Linked DNA regions of Homo sapiens: all the other regions are linked to region 2. Evidence: fine-mapped expression QTL. A gene starts in region 2. Each other region holds a variant in brackets. All regions are shown on one strand. Distances are from middle to middle.

The links. PIP is the estimated chance that this variant, and not a neighbour inherited with it, causes the effect. A credible set is the group of variants that fine-mapping cannot tell apart.
Region 1: its variant is the best candidate, but not a certain one, in a credible set for the expression of LINC01166 in monocytes after R848 (Quach 2016, PIP 0.75).
Region 3: its variant is the best candidate, but not a certain one, in a credible set for the expression of LINC01166 in sun-exposed skin (GTEx, PIP 0.54).
Region 4: its variant is the best candidate, but not a certain one, in a credible set for the expression of LINC01166 in unexposed skin (GTEx, PIP 0.60).

Annotation. Positions count from the first base shown.
Region 1 is chr10:132,931,175-132,933,855 of GRCh38, reverse strand. The region is part of intron 8 of CFAP46 (cilia and flagella associated protein 46); the gene reads left to right. Among named protein-coding and RNA genes, the nearest start is that of CFAP46, 10 kb to the left of the region's middle. RefSeq lists an enhancer at 1,854-1,923. The variant C/T (reference allele first, on the strand shown) is at 1,312.
Region 2 is chr10:132,964,234-132,966,914 of GRCh38, reverse strand. It overlaps LINC01166 (long intergenic non-protein coding RNA 1166), which reads left to right and starts at 1,626. Exons shown (of 2, transcript NR_120627.1): 1 at 1,626-1,729. LINC01168 (long intergenic non-protein coding RNA 1168) reads right to left here and starts at 1,381. Exons shown (of 3, transcript NR_046231.1): 1 at 1,008-1,381.
Region 3 is chr10:132,927,391-132,930,071 of GRCh38, reverse strand. It overlaps CFAP46 (cilia and flagella associated protein 46), which reads left to right. Exons shown (of 58, transcript NM_001200049.3): 9 at 268-367. Among named protein-coding and RNA genes, the nearest start is that of CFAP46, 14 kb to the left of the region's middle. The variant C/G (reference allele first, on the strand shown) is at 1,420.
Region 4 is chr10:132,921,260-132,923,940 of GRCh38, reverse strand. It overlaps CFAP46 (cilia and flagella associated protein 46), which reads left to right. Exons shown (of 58, transcript NM_001200049.3): 12 at 1,233-1,461; 13 at 1,717-1,837. Among named protein-coding and RNA genes, the nearest start is that of CFAP46, 20 kb to the left of the region's middle. The variant C/T (reference allele first, on the strand shown) is at 1,281.

The DNA.
Region 1 (2,681 bases), 33 kb after region 2:
GGAAGGGGTCCCCCAAGCTCACAGGGGTGTTGAGAGGACTCGGTTCCTGTGGGTTCAGGCCTCGGTCCTGGTGGGACAGCTTGCTTCATCAGTGCTAGCGAGGGGCGCCAGACGCCAGCACGTTCGTGGTCTCATCAGGGAGGTGGCACCTGCCCAACATTGAGGTCTCCGCTGCTCAGCTGCAGGCTCCTCGAGGGAGGGGCCCCAGGACCGCAGGGTGGCTGCTGGGCCACAGCCTGGGCCGCAGGGGCACAGGGCCAGCCTGCTGGTGGGTCTGTTTTTGGGAGGGGTATGAGTGCATGTGTACATGGGGATGTGTGTGGATATATTGTTCTGGAAGGAGTTTACGTCTTCCATCAGACCCTCCAGGTTGTTCTAACTGAAGTCCGGCCAAGCGTGGCCGTGGCCCTGGCCGAGCATCCCCTTCTGTGGCCAGGCGCTCCGACGAGAGGTCTTGGGACCAGTGTAAATAGCCCTGTTCCGAGGTCTGTCCACAGGCGGCATTCTCAGGCACTTTTACGGATTCTCTCTTCCCGACCTGCCCAGCAGGCCTGTGCGCTGGAGCTCAGGTAGGACGGAGAGGCCAGTGTTGTGATGCCAGGCCTGCCAGGACCTGAGAGGGCCCAACAGCAGAGCAGGGGGAGGAGGAGGTGGGCAGGGACGAGGGGCGGAGAAGCGTCCGCACCCCACCCCAAAGCAGCCTCCTGCCCACAGCTACCCAGGGATGCAGGGAGGATGGTCACACCACACTGAGGGCCGAGTTGAGTCGCTGCCAGCAGCCGCCAATTGTGTTCCCGGTAAGACTGTGATTACTCCCCGGGAAACAGCAGAAGACATGTAGACCTGCTCCCCAAGGACATTTGGCAATGTCTGGAGACACTGTGGGCGGCTGCTCTTCATCTAGCGGGCAGCTGCAGGGACACAATGGACAGGCTCCTCCTGGAAGAGAGGCGTCCCGGAGGGAAACCCTGGCCTAATCTCCACCGGAGGAGCGTGATCCTGATCCCTGCAGCTCAACAGGAAGCCTTAGAGTGGAGAGCTGAGAGCACCCGCTGTGCTCTTTCTTGAAGTTGTCTGGAGCACTGTGGGTCCTTGCATGTGGATACAAATTTTAGCCTCAGCCTGTCAGTTTCTGCAAAGACCCTGATTGGTGACTGCAGGTGCGGTTGGCGGCACGCCTACGGGCTTGTCGCATGGTAGGAAGGCCCAGGCTCTGTGTGGGGAGCGTGGGGAAGCCCAGGCTCTGTGTGGGGAGGAGGAAGCTGCAGGATCTATGTGGGGAGGAAGAAGGCCCAGGCTCTGTATGGGGAG[C/T]GTGGGAAGACCCAGGCCCTGTGTCAGGAGTGTTGGGAAGGTTCAGCCTCTGTGTGAAGAGGTGGAAGGCCTAGGCTCTGTGTGAGGAGTGTGGGGAGGCCCAGGCTCTGTGTGGCGACAAGGAAGGCCCAGCCTCTGTGTGTGGAGGAGGAAGGCCCAGCCTCTGCGTGGGGAGGAGGAAAGCCCAGGCTCTATGTGGGGAATGTGGGGAGGCCCAGGCTCTGTGTGGAGAGGAGGGAGGCCCAGGCTCTGTGTGGAGAGGAGGGAGGCCCAGGCTCTGTGTGGGGAGGAGGAAGGCCCAGGCTCTGTGTGGGGAGTGTAGGGAGACCCAGGCTCTGTGTGAGAAGTGTGAGGAGGCCTAGGCTCTGTGTGAGAAGTGTGGGGAGGCCTAGCCTCTGTGTGGGGAAGGCCCAGGCTCTGTGTGGGGAGGAGGAAGGCCCAGGCTCTGTGTGGGGAGGATGAAGGTCCAGGCTCTGTGTGGGGAGCAGGAAGGCCCAGGCTTTGTGTGAGAAGTCTGGGGAGGCCCAGCCTCTGTGTGGGGAGTGTGGGGAGGCCCAGGCTCTGTGTGGCGACAAGGAAGGCCCAGCCTCTGTGTGTGGAGGAGGAAGGCCCAGCCTCTGCGTGGGGAGGAGGAAAGCCCAGGCTCTATGTGGGGAATGTGGGGAAGGCCCAGGCTCTGTGTGGGGAGTGTAAGGAGGCCCAGGCTCTGTGTGGGGAAGAGGAAGGCCCAGGCTCTGTGTGGGGAGGAGGAAGGTCCAGGCTCTGTGTGGCAAGGAGGAAGGCCCAGGCTCTGCGTGGGGAGTGTGGGGAGGCCCAGGCTCTGTGTGGAGAGGAGGGAGGCCCAGGCTCTGTGTGGGGAGGAAGAAGGCCCAGGCTCTGTGTGGGGAGTGTAGGGAGGCCCAGGCTCTGTGTGAAAAGTGTGGGGAGGCCTAGCCTCTGTATGGGGAAGGCCCAGGCTCTGTGTGGGGAGGAGGAAGGCCCAGGCTCTGTGTGAGAAGTATTGGGAGGCCTAGCCTCTGTGTGGGGAGGGTGGGGAGGCCCAGGCTCTGTGTAGAGAGGAGGAAGGCCCAGGCTCTGTGTGAGGAATGTGGGGAAGGCCCAGTCTCTGAGTGGAGAGTGTGGGGAGGCCCAGGCTCTTTTTGGGGAGGAGGAAGGCCCAGGCTCTGTGTGGGGAGGAGGAAAGCCCAGGCTCTGCGTGGGGAGTGTGGGGAAGGCCCAGGCTCTGCGTGAGGAGTGTGGGGAAGGCCCAGGCTCTGCGTGGGGAGTGTGGGGAAGGCCCAGGCTCTGCGTGGGGAGTGTGGGGAAGGCCCAGGCTCTGTGTGGGGAGTGTGGGGAAGGCCCAGGCTCTGTGTGGGGAGGAGGAAGGCCCA
Region 2 (2,681 bases):
AGGCTGAGGCAGGAGAATGGCTTGAACCCGGGAGGCAGAGGTTGCAGTGAGCTGAGATTGCACCATTGTACTCCAGCCTGGGTGACAGAGCCAGACCCCATAAGACTGATCAGGAGGCCTGGCACCGAAGCTCACACTTGTAATCCCAGCACTTTCAGAGGCCAAGGCAGGAGGATTGCTTGAGGCCAGGAGTTCAAGACCAGCTTGGGCAACACAGCAAGACCCCATCTCTCCAAAAAATATTTTCTTTAAGTAGCCAGGTGTGGTGTTGCATGCCTGTAGTCCCAGCTATTCAGGAGACTGAGGCAGGAGGATCACTTGAGCCCAGGAGTTTGAGGCTGCAGTGAGCTATGATTGCACCACTGCACTGCAGCCCAGGAGACAGAGTGAGATCCTGTCTTAAACAAACAAAAACACAAAACAGATCAACCAAGATAAAAGAAAAATAAAGAGGGAAAAGCCTAAATTGCCAATATCAGAAATGAAAGAGGAAATATAGAGATTCTACAGTCACTAAAAGGGAAATCAGGGAACATGATAAACCAGTTTATGCCAATACATTTGGCAATTACAATGAAATGGGGGAAAGTCCTTGAATAATACAATTTACCAAAACCACCTTAGAATAAAATGGAAAATCCGAACGTCAACCCAGACTGAGGGGCACTCTGCAAAGTCGCTGACAAACACTCACAAAAATGTCAAGGTCAAGAAATACAAAGAAAGGCTACAAGAACTGTTGAAGAAGGATGGAAATTAGGACTTTGAAAAGGTCATAGGCCCGCGGTCCTGGATTAGATCCAGGATGTAGTGGGAAAAAGCTAAAGGGATGTTTAGGCACAATTGATGAAATCTGAGTATGGACTCTGGATTAGATATTTCATTGGTGTGAACTTTCCTGATTTTGACAGCTATACTGTGGTAATGAAAAGAAGTGTCTTTGTCAGGAAGTACACGCTGAGGTATTTAGCAGTAAAATGGCATAATTTCTTCAACTCTCAACTCACCCTCCGTCGATTCAGGGAAATGCGCATATGCAGACACAGGCACATGCAAACACATGTAAACACATGCAAACACATATAAACACGCGTGAACGGCAGAACAGCAGGAAGGTAACGCCAGAGAGAATTGGGAACAGCAGGAAGGTAATGCGTGAGGAGAAGTGGGAATGGCAGGAAGGTAATGGCATGAGGAGAAGTAGGAACAGCATGAAGGTAACGCCAGTGAGAAGTGGGAACAGAGGGAAGGTAACGTCGTTGAGGAGAAGTAGGAATGGCGGGAAGGTAACGCTGGTGAGAAGTGGGAAAGGCGGGAAGGAAACACCATTGAGGAGAAGTGGGAACGGCAGGAAGGTAACGCCGTGAGGAGAAGTGGGAATGGCAGGAAGGTAACGCCAGTGAGGAGTGGGAACGGTGGGAAGGTGACACCGGTGAGAAGTGGGAACCGCAGGAAGGTAACGCCGTTGAGGAGAAGTGGGAACGGAGGGAAGGTAACGCCAGTGAGGAGTGGGAACGGTGGGAAGGTGACACCGGTGAGAAGTGGGAACCGCAGGAATGTAACGCCGTTGAGGAGAAGTGGGAACGGAGGGAAGGTAACGCCAGTGAGGAGTGGGAACGGTGGGAAGGTAACGCCAGTGAGGAGTGGGAACGGTGGGAAGGTGACACCGGTGAGAAGTGGGAACCGCAGGAATGTAACGCCGTTGAGGAGAAGTGGGAACGGAGGGAAGGTAACGCCAGTGAGGAGTGGGAACGGTGGGAAGGTGACACCGGTGAGAAGTGGGAACAGTTGGTGAATTCGCCTAAGGCTCTAATGGCAGTTCCTTGTCGTATTCTTGTGACTTTTACATATGTTTGACGTTGTATCAAAATGGTAAGTTGGGAAAAACCCTCAGAGCAGCTCATCCTCAGACCTGCTGAACAGTCTTCAAAGACGCCAAACGGTGGCAGCCGCGTCTTTGTGAGGCTCTTCTGGCGACGGCGCTGGCGCGGACCTGCCCCGGCAAAGTGTGCGTGTCGGGAGGCAGCACCCGCCCGCCAGGCCTGGCCACAGTGGGAGGAGGGAGGTGGCGCAGCAGCCGCTGGGCGTCCTGGGGGTGACCTGGGCTCACAGAGGGCAGGGCCTAGGGCCACGCCGATGAGCCTGTTAAAGTGCCTCACAGTGTCATTGCGACTCATAACCATTCTCACCGTTGCTTATTTTACGTGGCACTTGCTTGTGTCCACCCAAACTGCCTGACCACGAACCCAGAAACCATGAATATTTTGTCCCCGACCGTTGGCCGCGCCCTAGAACCAGGCCTGGCCCAGGCTGGGTGGGTGGGTGTGAGGGATAAGAAGAGAAATGGCAGGCAAGTCGGTTTTAACATACAGAACAGGTGGCCACGCGGGACAGACCCTAAAGCCAAGGTTCTTTCTGACCTTATCATGAGGCTGATCCTTGGAGCGCAGGGAGGCGGCCGCAGGGTGAACAGTGCCCTCTGTGTAGGCTCCGGAGCAGAATGGTCATCATGGACAGGCCGCCGGCTGCTGGGCTGTGACTGTTCTGAGGCTGAAATGGGCAAACAGCCTTGCCTCCTCTCCACCTGCAGCTGCAAGCCTGGACAGTCGAGGCACCCCGGGAACCTCCCCTACGCTCATGTCTTGCTCGTGCATTTCTGAGCTCCCCGGCAGTTCAGCCTC
Region 3 (2,681 bases), 37 kb after region 2:
AGGAGCAGGGTGTCCAGTAGGGACGTGGCCCTGGGCAGCCTCCACAACTGTGCTGGCCCCGGGAGACTGCTGGGCTCCGGTGCTGTAGCTTGAAGCCCTGCTGGGGCCTCCCCACAGGGCTTCTGTTCTAATTAACTTAATTTTATTTATTTCTTATCCTACCTTTATTTCCTGCTTCTGCTTGAACGGGGGACATGGATTCTCGCCTGCAGCCATGTTTCCTGTGCCCCCTATTGAGCCGGTGCTGGCTGGTTTGTTTGTTTGCAGAATGCTTTTGCTTTTTGAATTGGCGCGTTTTTCCTTGACCTTGAAATGCATGGAGATCTCCTCTGCCTGCCTCTCAGACCTGAAGAAGATGGAAAGCAAAGTAAGTGGCTTCATGACACTGCTGCCTGGGGATGAGGCGCTGCTCACCGTGCAGTTGGACAAAAGGCAAAGAAAGGAAGAGCAGTTCACCAGGCCACGGCCCCCAGGGCTTCGGTCCGTGGTTGGCACATTGCCGTCTTTCCTACCTGTGTTTTGCACAGTTGCAGTTAGATGGTGTTTGCAATTTTACACCTGCCCGTTTCTCTTTACCTTTCTTGTGGCCACGGGTCCACAGCACCACAGTTGTTTCTAGAGTCCAATTTACGGACGGCGTAAAATTTCATGATGCTGATGATCCAGAACATCCTCCACCAGTCCCATTATTGGACGTGTAAATCACACCGGCAGTGCCTCGTTACCCGCAGTTCACTTTCTGCAGTTTGTTACCTGCAGACAGCTACAGTATGAAAATATTAAGCTATTCTGAGGGAGAGGCCACAGCCACATCACTTCTGTTACAGTATAGTGTTATGATTGTATCTTATTATTAGTTATTGTTATAAATATCTTATTGTGCCTAATTTAGAAATTGAAGTTTATCGTAGGGATTTCCGTCTAGAAAAATCACAGTATAATCGGGTTTCGGACTACTCCACGTTTCAGGCCTCCACTGGGTTGGGGGGTCTTGAAACGTATCCTCTCAGAGAAGGGGGGGCTACCGTATAATTTTTTGCTTATTACATAAAGGGCTGCAGTGAACATTTTGTGCCTAAAACATTTTTCTGCGTTTAGGATTTTTCCCTAAGATGAGTATATTTACATGAAATGACTAGGGAATTTTCACTTTTAATATTTTAAGAATACACGTTAGAGTATTGCCCTCCAGAAGAAGCTTCACACAACGACAAGTGTGTAAGACTGCATACATCAGGTTTGCCGATGCTTTCAGGAACTGTGACAGGCTCTTCCACAGAGCAGGGAAAATGTGATCAGTTTATCAGGGATGGTTTTGAGCAAACTGAGTGTCGCTTTACACACAGAGAGTGAAGAAGGGGGACCCTCGGATGCACAGCCACATGCTGGGGCCTCCCTGTGTGCTGTCTTCATTGAGCA[C/G]TTGCTGTGTGCTTTGCCCAGGTTACCTAAGAGTGAACGTAAACCAACCATCAGTGGCGCAGGAGACACGGCCATGGCTCAGCACGGGGGGAGCCGTCCAGTCACGCTGAGGGCTGTGCTGATCTGGAAATGGTTTCAGAATAGGAGATGCAGTTCACGTGGCCTTGACAGCCAGGCAGCCCTTGGAGGGACCGCCCACCAGGGTGCAGGTGGGAAGCGTGGTCAAGGCTGGAAACAGCAGCCCATGCCGCACGGAGGATGGGAGCAGCGTGGGAGGCTCCTGTGTTTGATGCCCTTTACCGGCTTCTGTGGGCCCCATTTCCATCTTCTGGGTTTTCACGGCACGGTGTCCCCAATTCAGAATGACTATGGAACGCCTGGGTCCGGCCCCACTTCCTCCTTCCCAGCAGCCCTTCCTTCAGCTCCCTGTGCCTCAGGGCTTGTCCCTGCAAAATGGCAGCAGTAACAGGACCCATCTCCAAGGGCTGCTGTGGAACTGAGAGCAATGTTTTGTGTATCCCAGGTTGAGGCTCTCGGGTGGGCCCCTGCTGACGTGGGGTCGCTGTTAGGGAGGCTCCTGTGGCCCAACTCTGCCCCCACCGCCCGTGGCCCCTGCACAGCATGTTCCTCTGCCCCGGCTTGAGGACACTGTCCTGGCCCTTTGCCCGGTTGGCCTCTGCCCATCCCTCAGGCCCCAGCCCTCCTGTTACCTCCTGACCACTGGTCGAAAGCGACCTTCTCTAGGTAAACATTCTACCAGGAGGCTCATTATCCCCGCCAGCCTACTGTTAGACATTCAGGATCTCACGAGATTTATTTTAAATTAAAAGCTCACTAATGTTAAGGATATGAATAGTTTTTAATTTTGAAGCCTTGGTGCATTTTTAAAGACTATCCACTGTAATACATTTCACAATTGCCTGAGTGAATGGTGGAAATGATTTAACCAGGCAGACACCTGGACTTGTGGGACCACATAAAGAGTTTTAAGATCCGTGAACGTGTGGGAAGCACGGAACGCTTTTTCTGACCTCTGTGAAGCCTGGCATGGCTTCCTTAGTGGCATGGAGGCTTGCAGCCGCTGGACAGGCCGGGGCACACAGCCTGGGGTGGTGGCCTCCTGCGCTCTCCATCCTGGCCGGCACCGAGGCCCAGACATGCAGGACTGCGGTGCAGCCATCCCGAGGTGCTGCGGGTACTTCCCGTGCTTGTGGACGTCTGCCGCCGAGGACCTGCTCCCCGGGACGGAGGCGTCTGCCGCC
Region 4 (2,681 bases), 43 kb after region 2:
CCTGAATTTTTCTAGAGTTCTATTTAGTTTTCTCTATTGGCTTCTTGGTTTCTCGACTATACCTTTTGGAGGAATGGAAGATTTCTCTGGGGCTAAGAACATGCACCCTTAACTTAGCACAGTCTGTGTCAGGCCAGCATCACTCCAGCTCATTTCACACAGACACATACCCTAAAACATGGTGACCACACCCCTCACACCCCTGCTGGGCCTTCCTTCGACTTCCCACAGCACAGAATGAACCCTGGATCCCGGCTCAGCTGTGTCTAGAACTGCTTCTCAAGCCTGGGGCCATCAAACGCAGGCTCCTGTCACACACAGCCTGCTCGAGGCCGGGGGTCCGGGGCACCCCCACAAGGGCTGCGTGAGGCCAGGGGTTCCAGGGCACCCCCACATGGCTGCTCAAGGCCAGGGGTTCCAGGGCACCCCCACATGGCTGCTCAAGGCCAGGGGTTCCAGGGCACCCCCACATGGCTGCTCAAGGCCAGGGGGTCCAGGGCACCCCCACATGGCTGCTCAAGGCCAGGGGTTCCAGGGCACCCCCACATGGGCTGCTCGAGGCCAGGGGTTCCAGGGCACCCCCACATGGCTGCTCGAGGCCAGGGGTTCCAGGGCACCCCCACATGGCTGCTCGAGGCCAGGGGTTCCAGGGCACCCCCACATGGCTGCTCAAGGCCAGGGGTTCCAGGGCACCCCCACATGGCTGCTCGAGGCCAGGGCGTCCGGGGCACCCCCACATGGCTGCTTGAGGCCAGGGGTTCCGGGGTACCCCTACATGGCTGCTCAAGGCCAGGGGGTCCAGGGAACCCCCACACGGGCTGGTTGGGCTGCTCCGCACGGCCCTTCCTCTCCAGACCCTAGCCTCCTTCGCAGCCCTGCACCCCGACCCCTGCCGCCGTGGCCTGTGGGAACCACACCCCACACTTCAGGAAGTTGTCCCCAGGCAGAGAGCCGGGCAGTCTTGCACTAGCGCCCAGGTTTCCTTCCAGGGGCTGCCGTCGTGAGCTGCCGAGGCCTCTGCGGTCTGCAGGGGCTTCTCTCCTTGTCCCCATTTGTGAGTCCCCAGGGCCAGGTAGGGACATCACTGGAAGGATGGCAGAAAGCCAGGGGCACCGGGCACCAAGCCTGCCCTACACTCTGGGGCCACTGCAGGCCTTCCTCTGGAGGGTGTGACCCCAGCCTGACAGAGGCGCAGCGCCGCCAGGGCCCCTGATGCCACGCCACCCCCGCAGCCTCATGACGCTTCTCCGCTGTCAAGTGCACATGGAGATGGCGCAGAT[C/T]GAGGAGGACGAGGACCGGCTGGAGCCCGCCACGGAGCACCTCCGGAAAGCCGCGCGCCTGGACAGCCTGGGCCTCTACCGGGACAGGATCCAGATGGCCTCCACCCGGCTGCGTCTGTGCACCACGCTATACCAGGCCCCTGAGCGCGCAGAGGACAAGGCCATCATGGCCGTTGAGCAGGTGCCGCCCCGGGGAAGTGAGGGAGGCTGGGTGCTGCAGCCCCAGCATGGGGCCGGGGCGGGGCTCTGAGGGCACAGCAGGGCGGGAGCCGCCCAGGGCTGCCTGAAGCAAGGAGGCCTGGGACCGAGCTGTCACTGTGTCTATGAGCACGAGGACCACACAGGCCCCTGCCAAAGGCCAGGAGGCTCCAGAAGTTGGAGAAGGTGCTGTGGAAAGTCCAGCGGCCCCTTGCTCATCAGTCTCTGCTTTTCACAGGCAAAAAAAGCTACACCAAAGGACAGCGTCAGGAAGAAGCGGGCCCTCCTGGTGAATGCAGGCCTGGCCTTAGCCCCTGACGCGTTTCAGATTGTGCTGGACAGTGAGAATGAGGCCAAAGGTGAGCTCTGCACTGGGCTCTCCCAGCCCAGAACGGTCCACCTTGGAATGGCTCCCAGGCTGCCCCGGGGCCTCCCCAGTCCCCATGCTCCCTGCCACCGCCCCCTGGATGCACAAGGACCTTGCACCGGCAGTGTCCTTCGATCTCGGCCCGCCGGGTCTGGCAAAGCCCAGCGACGGTCTTCTGTGCACACGCCAGTCAAGTCGGGTGCCCTGTGTGCCGGGACAGACCCCACAGGCTCCGCTGCTTAGACTACGGGAACTTACTCCTCCCAGCCCCAGGCTGGAAGTCAAGGCGTGGGCAGGGCTGATTCCCCCTGAGTGCTCTTCCTTGGCTTGTGGACGCCATCTCCTCCCCGCATCCTCACAGGGCCATCCCCTCTGGGGGTCTGTGTCCTCGTTTCCTCCCTTTGGAAGGACACCAGTCAGATTGGACTAGGGTCCACCCTGATGACCTCATTTGACCCAAATTACCTCCAAAGAAGGTCATACCCTGAAGTCCTGGGGGCGAGGACTTCAACACACCCTGCTCTGGGGAATGGGGTTGAGCCACTGCCTGAGGCACAGGACGGGGCTCCCTGGATCACGGGGGTCAAAGCTGAAGCCATCACATCTGTCCCAGGGAGACCCTGAGCTGGCTTTGGGTAATGGGACACGGGGCCGTACGGCCCATGTGCGGGGACTGAGCCAGGGTTCGGCAGGTGTGTTGCATCCTCACTGCCCGAGCTTCTCTGGGCACTCGCCAGTGGCTCTGGGAACGCAGGCGGCCCCACTCTCTCCAGCCCAGTGCAGGGGCCAGGCTGGGCCTGGCTTGGGAGCCCTTCCCGCTGGTCCCCTGAGGGTCC